Regions from separate parts of the Homo sapiens genome. Here region 1 is linked to region 2. Evidence: fine-mapped expression QTL. A gene starts in region 2. The other region holds a variant in brackets. All regions are shown on one strand. Distances are from middle to middle. Region 1 overlaps PKHD1L1 (PKHD1 like 1). Region 2 holds the start of ENY2 (ENY2 transcription and export complex 2 subunit).

Region 1 (8,345 bases), 69 kb after region 2:
CCTAAGTCTAATTGTGCTTATGTAAAAGTTACAATAGCTATCTTTTAGCCTTTTTTCCTGTTTTGGTTTCAGTCTGTCTGTGAAAATGCCATTTAACAATTATTATCCCCCTTTTTTTTTCATTTGAAGAACTTGGACTAAGCCAGCACTTTTTTCTACTGAAGAGGTCTAGGGTCATCTACCTTTGCAAATTCTGAATGACATGGGTTTATTCAGCAACTTCTCTCCAAGGAACAAAATATAAGTTTTTACTTTGAATTCAGAAGTAACATTTTGTGCAAAGACATAGTATTATCAAATTTTTTATCTCAGAAATTATGAAATTTTCTATCTCAGTCTTGTGATTTTCCACCAGAAAAAAATGTTGCTTTTTGGAAGTATGACAATTATTATGTGAAAAGCTTTAATAGAGAATATGTAAAGGAAATAAAGAGCCCTAATTTTGCCTCTTGTTTATGCAACTTTGTTTTAATTGCAAAAGTGCTTAAAGATACACTGATGTGATTTGCATTCTGAAGTTTCAGTAGTAACGGTTTTGTATCTTGCTTCTCTATAGGTGAACCTTGTGATATTTTGAATGTCACAGAAAATAGTATATGTTGCAAGACACCCCCCAAACCTCATATTCTCAAAACTGTATATCCAGGTAAGTTACCATAAGGGACAATGGCCATTTCTATATTCACATAAAAAGAATATATTAGTAAAAAATATTATTTAAATTTTTAGAATTTAGAATTTGTAGTAAGAATTGTAAGAAATTTCCTCCAAGTTTTAAAATTTACATTTTCTGGATTAGAAAATATTTCTATTAAAATAGCTGCCACAAAGCTGTACCTATGGAGAAAAACCCAGCCTAAATTATCAAGACACCCTACTGAAAATAGCACATCTCTACTGACAGAGTTTAATTATGCTTTTATTTCTAATTAAATTATGATAACTAAAACTTGGTATAGTCTACATAGAAATTTTTTAAATGCCTTTTTCTGATTAAAAAAAGATAAATAGGGGAAGTTAAATATTCACTTGTCTAGAATAATGTGGGAGTGAAAACAGGAGATGAGAGAAATGTTACTCTAAATTCTTTTCAGACTTACACCTTGTGGCTCAGTGAAATTGCTTTCCTATCTACACTAATATCATTGAAATGCTGTACATGTGTCTGCGTGTGGTGTGTATCTCATATCTTGTTCGCACCGTGAATGTTGTTTATAATCGTGTCATTGTTTCACATTTGAAGCCAAATGAATCGTTTATGAACCTCTTAAATTTGTTTGGTTTGAATATTAGAAAAAAATGAACAGTTTAAGAAAATAATTTTGATAATTTATAATTGATGACTTTAAAGAAAATTGTGTATATCACTAGACACTGCTTCTGTGAAAGTTTGAAGTGCTCAAAGCTTATCTTCAACCAAATTCAGCTGAAGAAGGGTAGCCATTATTTTCCACATACAGAAAAGCTTAAGGCTGCTAAAGGAAGAAGTAAGCCTAATTGTTGTTGCAGTTGAAGGAAAAAAAAAAGAGAGATGGCTCTTTTCTGATTAGGAAAAAATTTAATCACAGGGTTTATTCTGGCAAGTATAGGTACAGTTTATTGAGAGTATCCTGTTTTTGATTCTGTCCAAGAAGGAGAAGAAATCCTAGAGTAGAAGTAATGTTTTTTTTAAAAAGTAAAACAAACATTGAGAGAAATCTGAAAGCCAACAATTTCTCTTCTCTGATTAATGGCTTTGTAAGCCATTAATTTACTTTTGTTAGAATAGTCAAGGCAAAGGTTTTGTAATAAAATGGCATGAATCTTGAAGTTTCGCAACATCAGTTATATCATAATAATTACTATATATTATCTTACATAAAGCACTTTTTAAATGCCAGCTGTTTTACATGTGTATTATACATAATCCCTATAGCACCCATGCAAATATTATTATTACTCCCATTTTACATATGTGGAAACTGAGGCTCAAATAAGTGAAGTAATAATGAACAAATTACAGACTGCCCTCTGGCTGCAGATACGTGTAGGGGAATGTGTAATTGTTTTGTCTGCACACATACTAAAAATATGAATTGATATACAAAATCTATAACCAACATCCAAATAGAAAGCCATTGAGGCATTGCATTATGATCCTGATGAAAGTCTTATTTTATTTCATTACACTTAGGAGGGAGAGGCCTGAAGCTTGAGGTGTGGAATAATAGCCGTCCAATACGTTTGGAAGAGATACTGGAATACAATGAAAAAACGCCTGGGTACATGGGTGCCAGTTGGGTAGATTCAGCTTCCTATATTTGGCTCATGGAACAAGACACATTTGTTGCACGCTTTAGTGGATTTTTGGTGGCTCCAGATTCTGATGTTTATAGATTCTACATCAAGGGTGATGACCGTTATGCTATTTATTTTAGCCAGACTGGACTTCCAGAAGATAAGGTAGGGAAGCCTCAGAATACTATTTGATACTGTAAAAACATTATGGTGATATTTATATGTATCTTACTCTAAATCAAAACGAATGAACATTTTTAAAATGTATGAGAAATGATGTCATGTGGTTTGGCTCTTGGCTATTATCCTGGATATGATACAAGATATAAGATGATAGAAAACCTATAGCCTACAAGAAAATTTCCCGTACCTGAAAATATTTCATTATTCTACATTAACTTGGTTATGAGATAAAATTCATCTCTCTATTTTTTATAAATAGAATTATACATTTAATTTCATATGTAGTTTTTCACATATTAGTATTAAATACTAATTTTATTAAATAATTTATGTAATCACTAGTTTTAATGACTAAGCAGTGTTATTACTTGGGTTTACCAAGCTTAGATAACCATCTCCCTACTGATAAGTTTTTATTTACTTCTGGTGTTTTATGACCACAAATAATACTCTATTGAACATCTATGATCATTAGACTTTTCTGTATTTGGGGTTACTTTGTTAGGACAGTTTCACAAATATGAAACTAACAGATCAAATCAAAGTAACATTTTATGACTCAACTTATGTGGCAAGATTGCTTCCCAAACTGGTTGTGTAAGTTTAAATTGCTATCTGTAATTTATGAATTCTAATTTTTATCATAGTTTGTACTCCAAAGCATGTGTACTCCAAAGGTGGTATAATCATTCCTAATGGGAAGCCCAAAGTCCTCTCACTCTAGTGTGCAGAACCATTTAGCAATCTTTGGCAATCTAATTTGGATTAAATCTCTCAAAGTTCTCCACAGAGCAAAAGAATATTTTATTTGTCAATAACTACCTTTTTCCTGGTAAGTATCTTCTTAGTTTCCACTGCAGTTCTAATTATGGAAAAGCTATGATCTGCGTAGTATACTTAGTACAGTAGTGTTGATGTTAGTGAATGGTAGAAGGAATGAAGTGAACTTTGATAATTTAAAAAAAATTTATAGCATAGTAGATAACAGATCTTAAAAGAAAAATATAAAGTAGTTTTACATTTTTCTACTTATGAAACTTCTAAAACTGAAATAATAAATGATAAATAAATAAATGTTGAAAAGGTCTATTAATAAATTCTCCCTTTTCTCTGTCTCTGTCTCTCTCGGATTAGGTGAGGATTGCATATCATTCTGCTAATGCCAACAGTTATTTTTCCAGTCCAACACAAAGATCAGATGATATTCATCTGCAGAAAGGAAAAGAGTAAGGCTTTTTCCTGTCATTAAATTACTGTGTGGTATTTATAAGCTTTAAGTTTATATTTTAAAATATTTTCAATTTATTTTTATTGGTGGAAGTGATATTAGTTTATTGGTTTAATTTATAATTGGTCATTCTCTATAATTTTATTCAAATGTGTTTCTTGATTTTCAAGAATACTGGCATTCAACTAACCAGGGAAATTTGAAGTCTAGATTAACCCTGTTGCAAAATTATACTTTTGTGAAATGTACTTGATCCTGTTCTTAGTTCTTTACTTGGACCTTTCAGTCAATCCACCCATTTAATTTCTCTGTTCCTGCAGCTGAGCTCTTCAGTATTGCTAGGGAAAAATCACTAAGCCACATAGATTGTTGCCACTTTTAATATGTATTTGTTATTAACTGGTTTATTCCAGGCCCTGGGCCAGGTACTGGAAATTTAAGAATATTAAAATACACTGCCAGAACTGAAAGAGCATTCATTTAGTGTTGAAAGGTCAAGTCCAAGGAGCCAATGAGTGGGATTATCATCCAAATACCAGATAATCCCATTCAAAAAGCCATTCAGAATTCCTAGGAAACAGGAAGATAAAAGACATGATACATTGAAAATGGAGAAGGTGGTGGAATGGAGTTACATGAAGAACATCAAAAGATGCATTTGCATCTGCTAGACTTTACTATATAACAAAGCACCTCAGACTGTAGCAACATCAAACAAGTGTGAATTATTTTGCACAATTTTATAGTTGGCTGAGCGGTTCTTTTAGTCCTGGCTGGTTTATTTGGGGACTGGTAACCTAGAATGCCTCACTCCATGTCTAGAGCCTCAGCAGGCATGGTTGAGTCTTAGATATTTGGGGCATCCCATTGCACATGGTCTCTCATCATCCAGGAGACTAGCCCCGGTTTGTCACATTGTGGATAGCTAATGCATACTGGGCTTAATACCTAGGTGATGATGGGTTGATAGGTGCAGTAAAGAGGGGAGTCCTAATGCACACACACTCTGCAATACTCTGTCTGTGTCATATTTGCTAATATCCCATTGC[C/A]CAAAGCAAGTGGCCAAGCCTAGACTCAAGGATGAAGAAATAGACTTCCCTTCTTGATGGGAGGAGTGCTTTTTTCTTTTAAGTTTACCACATCACCCTTTCAGATATTGAAGAAGTTATGCTCAGAGGCAGCATCATGAGGATCTTTTGGAATTGGACAAGGAGGGTTGGGATCAATGGAACCTGGGAGCAAATTAATGTTCTCACACTCAATGTTCTTGCTGAGGTCTTAGTAATACTGACATGGGGAAAGAGTTTCATTCCTTTTTTATCCTCTTTCTTCTGCTTTCACTTCTTTAGACATTAAACATTTTCTTCTATAACCATGAAAACTACTGGGCCAGGTCAAGATAAATGGAGTTCTTGATTAATCCCTACTGCAATTAAGTGTCAGTACATTTTCAGACTTTGGCTTGGTTTTGGAAAATGAGTTCAGTCTACCAGCTAGGCAGGAGCACAGAGTTTGAATGAAAGCAACTCCTAATACATCTGCTGCCTGGTATCTGTGCTCCTGCAAAACCAGCTTGGAATTTACATACTGTGCTTACAATGATGGCTATGAAATCTGAAATTGAGGCCACTCTAGCTGGTTTATTGTAAAGTGGCTCTTCAAGTCTTTCCAAAGGTAGCTCATATTGCTAAATCATTTTACTCAAATATTAAAAACATAGCTTCACCTAGTGCATATCTTTTTGGTCACCTTATTTTGTTTGGAATTCTCCCTCAGTTACTAGTTTAAAAAATTTTGAATCCTTAAAATTCCCTTAGCATTTGTTATTCATATGGATAAAGGAATAATATCTATTTTATGAGAATTTTGTGAAGATTAAACGTAATAATGTCTGCAAAGTGCTTAGTTTATTGTCTAGCACAAAGAAAGTGCCCAATTAATAGTTTTAAGCCACAAGTAAGGATGCAAAATTTTAATGGTTCTTCTTTGAATTCTGCTCTTTAATTAGTGTTGGTCATCTCAAGTCAGAAGAGCTGATGAGCAGGTTCTTATGGAAGTCAAGAGCCTGATATAATCCCCAAATATCAGTTCCATTGGGCAATGATCCAGAACCCTATCATTCTACACATATGAAACATGATAAATTTCCCTCATTCAGACTCTTTCATGAACTGTGGATACTTATTCTTCCTATATAAGAATATATGTTGAGTGATGTGAGACAATTTAGGGAAGCTCCCAGCTGTCCTCTCCAAAGATGTGAGCAATGGTGACATTGCTAGAGATTTAGAGGAGAAGTAGTAGTTTTGCACTCTCTTGTTAACAGCTGCTCAGTGAAGGCACTACCTTGGGTACACAGTAGGATGAGGGGCAGGAGACATCAAGAATCAGGAATTCAAAATATAAAGTGAAAATCCCATCCAGCTAATTGGAGGATCATAGTAAATCTGACCGGTAAAAGTTTCCTGAGGCAATGTTTTATTCCCCAAGTTACAAATGGAGCCAAATTTAAGGAATGTGAAAGTAGGAACTTCTACTCCTGACAAATATAACTACTCAGATATAAAATATATGCTATGTCTAAGCCTGCCATTTTCTTGAACACATTAAAATATTTAACCTCTGCATGTTGTCTGTGTTATATACCAGGGACAGGGTTATTTTTCAAGATGTTGAGTATAAGAAATAGTATTGTCTTCTATAAATATTTATTGACTAAGCTGAATGAATTGGTTATGAATGAGAACAACTTTCTACTAATGCAGATATCTTACATAATTCATTTTATTTTGGCAAAATGCTGTGAAAATTTTAACATTTGAATATTTAAAATATGAGATACTACAATATAAGTCATTTAACAGGCAGGCTTTTAAGATAATATTGATATTTTATTCATTAAAATAATTTCATGGCAAGTGTTCTGGAAAAAAGTTATATTCATTAGTTACTCTATTTTCCAGATACTATATTGAAATCTTGCTGCAGGAGTACAGATTAAGTGCATTTGTTGATGTTGGACTGTACCAGTATCGAAATGTTTATACTGAACAACAAACAGGAGATGCAGTGAATGAAGAACAAGTTATCAAATCCCAGTCGACAATCCTCCAGGAAGTACAGGTTTGCTATGATTGCAGTTCCTCTTACAGAAAGTAAATGTTCGAAGGCAGGATCTCAATTTGATTATTAATTTTACTAGGTAAGATACTGTTTTAGGTGAAAGCAGTCATGGACAATTATTAAATTATGACTTTGAGTATTTGTACGATAAGCCAAAAAGGCTGTTACTTGTCATTTGTAGTAAAATAGAGCAATAAAGTGGCATTGAATAGCTGAATTATGATGCTTTTAAGATATATATATTTTTCATATATTAAAAATGTTTCTTAATTGGAAAATAGGTTATAACATTGGAAAACTGGGAAACAACTAATGCAATTAATGAGGTTCAGAAGATCAAGGTAACCAGCCCATGTGTGGAAGCTAATTCATGTTCACTTTACCAATATAGATTAATCTATAATATGGAAAAAACTGGTAAGTTATAAATAATAAGGGAGATACTGTTTCTGTTCATGTATAGATGTAGTCATAAAGTATTTGCTGTAGTCAAATTACACTGTCTGGAAAATATAGTTTTGATGATATGCTAGACAAAGAAGCAGAAAAATGTATTATGGAAAAAAGCCTTCAGACTGGGATAGAAAATGACATCCATACAAATAACTTTGTGGCATATACCATCATTTTCTAATAATAATGATAAATATATATCTAAATGCACATGGAATTTATATATTTGCTACTCATAGGTGTAAGTTAAGAAAATAGGAATTGTGAATAGTCAACCCAAATGCCCGTCAATGATAGACTGGATAAAGAAAATGTGGTACACCATAGAATACTATGCAGCCATAAAAAGGGATGAGATCATGTCCTTTTCAGGGACATGGATGGAGCTTAAAGCCACTTCCTCAACAAACTAACTCAGGAACAGAAAACCAAACACTGCATGTTCTCACTTATAAGTGGGAGCTGAACAATGAGAACACATGGACACAGGGAGGGGAACAACACACACTGGGGCCTGTTGGGGGGTGGGGTCGGCACGGGGAGGGCATTAGGTTAGGAAAAATAGCTAATGCATACTGGGCTTAATACCTAGGTGATGATGGGTTGATAGGTGCAGCAAACCACCATGACATACGTTTACCTATGTAACAAACATGCACATCCTGCACATGTACCCCAGAACTTACAATAAAAATAAAAAATTTAAAAGGAATTAAATTCATCATTGCACAGAAGTAAACATGTCTTTCAATTTTTTAAATTAAATGATAGGCCTATGGAACACCAATTTATCAGCCAATAAACAACATTGCATTTCTATATTTTACAATAAATCCTAAAATACAACTTTTGCTACTACTGTTAATTGTTTTAACCAGTAAATATTGATGATTGCTTATTCTTTGCCAAATCCAATGATTATTACTGTGGGAATATTAAAACAATAAAATATCAGCCCTGTCCTCAAAGAGATCACAAATTAATTAAATAGTCAATATTACTGAACTTGAATCAGTTTCAAAATACAATTTCTCTAAGTGATAACTTACATGGTACAGAGTATAGGTGCTTTAAAAATATA
Region 2 (8,307 bases):
AAAGATTTAAATCAAACTTCTAGATGTGAATATTACAATGTCCAAGATGAAAAATACACCAGATGGGATTAACAAGAGACTAATATTACAAAAAAAAAAAGTAAACGGAACTAAAGGCATGAAAATGGAAACTATTGGCAATAAAACAGAAAAAAGTATGAAGAAAAAATGAAACGGGCATTCATGAGCTGAGACCAACTTCTGTGATCTAAAAATGTGTAACTGGAGTCTTCAAAGGAGAAAAGGAGGGGAAAAAGTTGGAAGAAATAATAGCCAAAATATTGCCATTGATCTTGATAAAAACTATATGTCCGCAGTTTATAGCCCAACAAACCCCAAACATAAGAATCATAAAGAAAACCACAGCTGGCCACAATATTATCAAACTGCTCAAAACCAATGTAAAAGAGAAAAATCTTAAAACAGAAGAAAAAAGGCATGTTATGTATAGAGCAACAAAGATAGGATAATGTGAGATTTCTCATCAGAAACAATATAAGCAAGACTGAGGCTATAACTTTAAAGCATTGAAAGAAAAAACTGTCAACCTAGAATGCAGAAGGAGCAGAGAGATGGTTACAGAAGGGTACAAGGAAACTTTGGGAATGATAGCTAAGTTTAGTATCTTGATTGTGGTGATGATTTCACGGGTGTATACATATATCACAACTTCTTAAGTTGTACATTTTAAATTTGTAGTTTATTGTCAATTATGTCTTCATAAAGCTGTTTAATTTGTGAGACAAATTTATGTCCTACTTACCAGGCATGCTCCAACCCTGGAGATAAAGCATTGAAAACGATGGACATGGGACCCTTCAATACAAAATCAATAATCTTAGCAAAGAAAACATACTGGATGCTACGAAGTATGATAAAGTCTATGAAGTACTGGTTACTATGGCAACGCATAATACAGATTCTATAGTGTAGATTCTGACTAGTCAAGAAAGGAATCCCTGAGGAAGTAACATGTAAGCCAACATGAAAGAATGAAGTATGAATTAGCTAGGTGAAATATAGCTGGGAAACATATAAAAACATATAAAAAGACTTGTACTAAATGAAGATTCTAGGAAAAGGATATTTATAAATGCCTAGGAAGGAAATTGCCGGATCAAAAGACAATTACAATTTGATTAAAAATAAGTTTTTTGTTTCGTTCTTTGGAATAGAAAAAGACAAAGTGACATTTACTGCTTATGTAGCAAAGGAAATTTTGGTACAACTTAATAACATTATTTAAGACAAGAGAATAAGCCTCATTGCATCAAGTTCTTGACACCAGAGACCACATCATCTTTACATCTTAAATGCAGTGTTTCAGGTAGCCAAGGTGCCCATCAAAGGTTTGTGGAACTAAAGTGAACTCCTTCAGTTAGAATAAAAGAAATCAAATTACCAGAAGCGCCTCAATTATGCTTCACTATCTCTAGAAATGATAGTTTTTAAACAAAATAATCTTTTTCATCATCCTCAAGTAATTCCTAATGAAAAACTCATCATGTGAACTATTGCAAAAGCCTCCTATCTGCTGTGTGCAGTCATCTCATCTTCCAAACTCAACCTCCACAGAGTCTGAGGTAAGCTTTTCAACTCCCGTATCTGTTCACGTCCCTTGTACTTAAAATGTGGTACACATACGCCATGGAATACTATGCAGCCATAAAAAGGAACACAATCATATCCTTCAAAGGGACATGGAAGGAGCTGGAAGCCACTGTCCTCAACAAACCAACGAAGGAACAGAACACAAAACACCACATGTTCTCACTTGTAAGTGGGAGCTGAATAATGAGATCACATGGACACAGGGAGGGGAACAACACACACTGTGGTCTGTCAGAGAATGGGGTAGGGGGAGGGAGAGCATTAGGAAAAATTGCTAATGCATGCTGGGCTTAATACCTAGGTGATGGGTTGACGGGTGCAGCAAACCACCATGGCACACGTTTACCTATGTACCAAACCTGCACATCCTGCACATGTACCCCGGAACTTCAAAGAAAAAAAAAAATCGGTCGGAGCAGTGGCTCAGGCCTGTTAATCCCAGCACTTTGGGAGGCCGAGGCAGGTGGATCGCGAGGTCAGGAGTTCAAGACCAGCTTGGCCAAGATAGTAAAACTCCGTCTCTAATACAAAAATTAGCTGGGCTTGGTGGCGGGCACTTGTAATCCCAGCTACTCCAGAGGCTGGGGCAGAGAACTGCTTGAACCCGGGAGGCGGAAGTTGCAGTGAGCTGAGATCGCGCCACTGCACTCCAGCCTCAACGACAGAGACTCCGTCTCAAAAAACAAAACAAAAACAAAAAGAAACAAACAAAAATTAGCTGGGCATGGTGGCGGGCGCCTGTAATCCCAACTACTCGGGAGGCTGAGGCAGGAGAATCGCCTGAACCCGGAAGGCAGAGGTTGCAATGAGACGAGATCACACTACTACAGTCCAGCCTCCGCAATAGAGCAAGACTCAGACTCAAAAAAAAAAAAAAAAAAAAAAATCTTCAAATGGCACCTGATATCCTGCAGCTGTACATCCCAAACACAGAATCTAAGATTAACGCTGATGAAATGAGTACGGAACAAGGACAACTTTGTGAATTTTTTCTAAAGTTAAAGTATTCAATGGATTGTTTATTGTGAGATTTTGCTTCCTGCTTTTTTGGTGTTAAAATATCCTTTTGTTTATGAAAAGATAGATGAGTAAATGATAGTTTTTAAGAAACATCTCCACCTAGTAAACAGAAAAGTTGGCAGAACTACAGCAGCTGAGTTTTATTTTATATTGTAATGGCTCAATACAAAAATGTCAGGGAAACACTGAATGACCGGAAATCCAAGAAATCCAAAAGGCAAACAAGGCCCTCACTGATTTATTTCCTCTCACTTTCCCAGACGTTTTGCTCCAGCAATATAAGAGTGCAAGGATGTCCAGCATACAACCTACTAATTATTTCCCTTTCCTCATGCTTTCCCATGAATGGAATGACCTCAACAATTTCTTCTCTTCTTCATATACTCATTTTATTGAATACATCCTATGTGCCAAGCACTAGATATAGGGTAGTGAACAAAAGAAAAACATCACTGTTTTCAAGGAACTCATAGTCTAGTGGAGGAAACAGACAACAAATCAAGATAGAATTTAAAAGGCCGATAAGTACGTCTTATGGAGAATGCAATGACGAAGCCCAAAAGTGAAGGCAGGAAGGCTAGTCAGGAGGCTACTAGAGTTCAGGTAAGAGATAACTCTGATTTGGATTAGGGTGGAGGCCTAGAGATATCAAAATGTGGAGCTGACCGGACTTGCTACCAAGCAGACAGTGGCTAAAAGAAATAAACCCCAAATGACTCTGGCACAAGTGTCTCTTGGTACCAACCTGGGCTAGTCTAGTCGGCTAAAGGATAAGAGACCACACGGAGAAAAGTCAAGAGGAGACCATGTGAAAGAATCTTAAACAAGCTTATAGTCTGAGACCCTACCCCCACCCTCCAAACATATGAGGAAGTCCAGCCAAATGAGCAGAGCTTCCCAGCAGATCCATTACTGAACAAGGATGCATCAATGAGCCCAACTAGGACTAGAAGAACCACTCAGCTGACCCGTAGACTTGTGAGCAATAATAACTGCTTCTTGTTTTGAGACACTGAATTTTGGCTTCACTTTCTAATGCACTAACTAAACATGGTGATACCATCTACTGACATGGGGTGACTGGAAGAAACACGGTGGCAAAGAGGAAAAGGAAAAAAATAAAAAGAAAAATCAAGCTTATCCTCTCTCATCCTAGTCAACTCTTAACCTACCCTTCAAAGCTCAACTTAGATATTAACTCCTCCAAGACGCCTTCCCAGATCCCCAGACTAGTTTAGGAAAGATATTCAAGTACTACCATTGTATTTTGTACATATCCCTATCACTGCCTTCCCATATTGTTTTACAATTATCTGTTTACAATTTTCTTCCTAACTAGCTAATAGTCCTCTTTTGTTACGGAAGGTGTCTTGTTCATTTTGATATTATCAGGACGTAACACAAAACAGGTACTCGGTAAATATTTCTGAATTTAATAAATCAATTAGCATAAACTTATTTTATACTTTAATGTCTGTTATTATAATTAACTGTAGATCACTATTTCTCAAAGTGTGATCTCTGAAAACATGCATCAGAATCAGCAGGGGTGTGAATTTTAAAATGCAGATCTCTGGGCTCTATCATAACGAAAATGCCGTTAAGTTGTAAAAACAAGAGTAAGGATATTCTACCAGCTACAGATAAAGCAAGGAGTAGCAGTGTGGGAGTAAATCCACTTTTCCTCACTATCTTCTAGAGATGTTCTCTACCAGAGTTCTTAATGTGCCAGGAACTGAGTAATTAAAAATGCTATGACTGGAATGTAGTTTCTCTTCTAAGAAACGGCTCTCGGTCAGAGGAAACAGGAACTGGGGGTCCTCCAAGGAGGTGTGGTTTCTCAACGCACACGTTCACAAGCGATGCTCCAGGAGGAAGGAATGTTCTCAGCGTCCCCCGAAACAGAAGCCAGGCTGTGGACACACAGCAGCCAGAGCCCCAGGCACTACCCGCACGCCAGCCCTCAGACCTCAGACCTCAGAGGCTGGGCTGCTGACGGAGGGGGCCCAGGGTCCCGTTACCGAAGAGCGCGCGAAGGCGGCTCCCACCGGGTTCTGGGATGGGCATCATTCCCCAGAAGCAGCGGCCTCCGTGAGTCCACGCAAGCCGCCACGGTGGCTTCGCTTGCCAGTCAGAAAGAAAGAAATTGCGGGAAGGGTCAGGCCGGAGGCAGCCGAAAGGGGAAAGGAACGGAGTACGAAGGGCGCCGCCGCTTCCCACCTGCGTCAAGCTCCAGCTGGTAACAAGGCAGCGGCTCAAGAGAGAGCTTGTAACCCTCGAAGCGGGGATCCAACAGAGGTCTCTTCACCCGTAGGGAGCAATTAGCCGCCACCTCCATCGCTTTCCAGGGCCGCAGCGTGAGAATTAATAAAGCCCTTGTTGAAAGGTCCGCGCTTCACGCCTCGCACAGAGACTGGGAAGCGGCGTGGTTCCCATCCCAGAAAACACTGCGGTGCGAACTGCCTTCTGGGAAATGTAGTGTCCGTGAAAAAGTTGAGACTGTTGCATGCTGGGCTATGTAGTTCTCCTGGTACTTAACGCGCGCGCGACGGCAAGGTCTGAACTCTGTTACCCAGAGGCCCTAGCAACCAGGAGGCGGCCCGCGCTGGTTAAATTCTCACATTATAGGCAGGGTGGCGAGACCCCGCCCCGGAAATGCGTGTTCTAGCTTTCTGTGTGCTTAGGTGCCCGAGCTACTGAGGGTCTAAGTCCGGGCAGCCGAAGAGTGTGGTAGGTAACGGTCCTCAGCGCAAGGGTCATTTCGTCGCTGGGAAGGGACGGCCCTCGCCCGCGGTGATGGTGGTGAGCTATGCCCGTGGTCCTCAGGGCCGGGACCCGGGCCCAGCCCAGGCTCCTTTCGATGTACTGTCTTTCGTTAGCGTCCCCGACCCGCGCTCGCGGGCCTGTAGGGCTCTCCGACAGGGCGTGCTACCGGAGTTGGCCTGAAACCAGTCCTCGCTTTGTTTTCTGGCTCCTCCTCTCCCGCCTCTCCCGCTGTCTCCGCCCTGTTCTATTTTCCCTAAGAATGTCTGAACTGGGAGGGATACCCTAGCGCCCTTGTTTTACCAGTGAGAAAACTGAGGCCTTTAAGAATTAAGTGACTTGTCCAAGGTCACTATCCGTATTTTAGGAGCCAAGACGAGATCAAGTTCAATATTCCAGGAGTGGTACTGACTAGACCTTGTAGTTATTTTGAAAATGTTAGCCTCCAATTACAAAAGCAAGCATTTCCTAGTTCTCACTCAACTTCTCCTTTTCCCTGTTCCTCTCAAAAAAGAAAAAAAAAATCAACTCTGGTAACTCATTGCCAGTCTGAATTTTCAATAGGCCAGATGGAAGACAACAAAAGTAATCTCAAGTTAGTGACAGATTAGGTGGGAAAACGTTAGTTTACGCCAAGTTTTATTTAATTTAAACTTTTAAGTGGCTTTAACGCTTTCAAAACCTAACTTTCCTCTTCTTTCAACATCATTTTGGTTTGGGTTGTCTGTTTTTACTGACAATTGAGGACTTTGTAAGTTAGGAATTAGTTTGAGATTTGTTTTCTTCTTATCCCACCAGCAGTGTGTGTGTAAACACACACATCCACACACTTAGGTTTAGCAGTTGTAATTGTGGGTTCATCCTAGTGAAGAGTAAAGCAAAACACTTAGAGCCTTATCTAGTAATTTTATTTTTTTTGATTAATTAATTTTTTTTTTTTTTTTTGAGACAGAGTCTTGCCCTGTCACCCAGGCTGGAGTGCAGCAGCGCAATGTCGGCTCACTGCAACCTCTGTCTCCTGGGTTCAAGCGATTCTCCTGCCTCAGCCTCCTGAGTAGCTGGGATTACAGACACCTGCCACCAAGCCCAGCTTATTTTTCTATTTTTAGTAGAGACGGGGTTTCACCATCTTGGTCAGGCTGGTCTTGAACTCCTGACCTCGTGATCCACCTGCCTGGGCCTCCCAAAGTGCTGGGATTACAGGTGTGACCCACTGTGCCCGGCCTGGTAATTTTATTTTTTTACTAATAGTATTTAATCTTTTTTTGATGTTTAGTATGTATGACTTCTCCCAATTTTTGGATGCAGTCTCTGCAGAAGTGATCGGCAGTTATGTTCAGTTTTGGAGCTCCTAGGGTCAAAGTACTTGAGTTCAAATTTTGCCTTTCCACTTTCTATCTCTGTGCCTCAGTTTCCTCATCAGTAAAATACAGATTATTTTATTAATATAAATATGTAACAATACGTTCTGGGAATTAAATGTGATGTTTAAAAAAAAGCAAACCCACACTGCATTAGCCCAGTGCCAAGCACATAAGTGTTTAATAAAGAGTAATGATATTATTAACACACTTGAAATGTATCACCCCTTCAGTTAATAGAATGGTAAACATGTTAGGATGCCTGCCTAGAGGATTTAGCAGAAAATGCTTTGTAAATGTTCTATATCTGAAAGTACATGTTGATGTCCAGGTTAGCAAGATGAACAAAGATGCGCAGATGAGAGCAGCGATTAACCAAAAGTTGATAGAAACTGGAGAAAGAGAACGGTAAGTAATAGATTGTGTTAATAAATTACATTTCACCGCCTTTAATAGTTAGCTTGTAAGAATCTAAACAAGAAATGAAACATGTCACTGGAAAGAATTACAATTGAGATTATAAAAGTTTCTATTCCGAACATCTGGAAAAAATAATTTAGGTTTGTTAAGTATTGCAGGACTTGGAGGGAAGTGGTGATGTAGAAAGATGAGCAAGATATGGCTCTTAAAGAGTAATTTGATGGAGAAGAAAAAGTACATACCTGAATTACAACTGGAGACATAATGTTACCTGGGTTTTAACAGGGAGACAATGTTGTGGAACCAGCTTCATTTACCAAGCTCTCAACCTTGGAGCAGCAAGTGCTGTTTCCACTCTCTAAAACATTCTTCCTTCTCTTCCTTTTTAGCTAATTCTAGCTCAACTATCAGGTCTAATTTATATATTGTCTCTTCAAGGAATGTTTTTAAGTCCCAAATACCTTGTTCCATCATAGCATTTAATCAACATTGTGTTCTAACAATCTACTTGGCTAGTTTGTATCCTCCAGTATAATCTAAGTTCTTTAACACCAAAAACAACATTGTATACCCAGCATCTAATGCTTTGTTTGGTTCATAATTGGCCACGTAAATATTTGCAGAATCAACAGGTTTAGAAGTACAAAGAAGGGGCTGAGGAATCAAGAAAGGCTCCCAGAGGCAGGGTTATAAAGTGAGTAAGACAAATATGTATAAGGAAGAGGCAAATATGTATAAGGAAGAGGGGGAATCTTTCAACTCAACCCGGGCATTCAGGTGATCATGTAAGATCTCACACAATAAGAAAAAGAGGTGCATCTGTTGCTGACTTTATTTTTGGATGATGGGAGTCATTTAAAGTTTTAAGAAAGGAAATGACTAGATCACATTTACACTTTAGGAATCTTACTCTGTTGGTGTGGAGCTTGGACTTGAAGGGGACAAGATAGATGGCAGAAAAATGAGGTAGAAGATTATATAGGGTTGAAAATGGAAAACTCCAAAAATTGGAAGGAGACCTTAGAATTTTAATAAAATGTAGAAACAGCAACCCTCAAAATGAGGAAGGAGGCATCGATAACTGCCTTGGGTAGCTTTAGAGGATAGTACTGCTGGTAAGGAGTACGGATTG

Evidence for each region. PIP is the estimated chance that this variant, and not a neighbour inherited with it, causes the effect.
Region 1: its variant is fine-mapped to the expression of ENY2 in whole blood (INTERVAL, PIP 0.98).

The regions. Positions count from the first base shown.
Region 1 is chr8:109,397,903-109,406,247 of GRCh38, forward strand. PKHD1L1 (PKHD1 like 1) reads left to right here. Exons shown (of 78, transcript NM_177531.6): 12 at 557-646; 13 at 2,174-2,442; 14 at 3,595-3,686; 15 at 6,652-6,811; 16 at 7,093-7,228. Among named protein-coding and RNA genes, the nearest start is that of PKHD1L1, 40 kb to the left of the region's middle. The variant C/A (reference allele first, on the strand shown) is at 4,738.
Region 2 is chr8:109,329,042-109,337,348 of GRCh38, forward strand. It overlaps ENY2 (ENY2 transcription and export complex 2 subunit), which reads left to right and starts at 5,306. Exons shown (of 5, transcript NM_020189.6): 1 at 5,306-5,433; 2 at 7,087-7,163. The coding sequence starts at 5,428. It overlaps NUDCD1 (NudC domain containing 1), which reads right to left and starts at 5,046. Exons shown (of 10, transcript NM_032869.4): 1 at 4,852-5,046. The coding sequence starts at 4,969. RefSeq lists enhancers at 4,738-4,787, 4,918-4,967, 5,150-6,072, 5,338-5,587.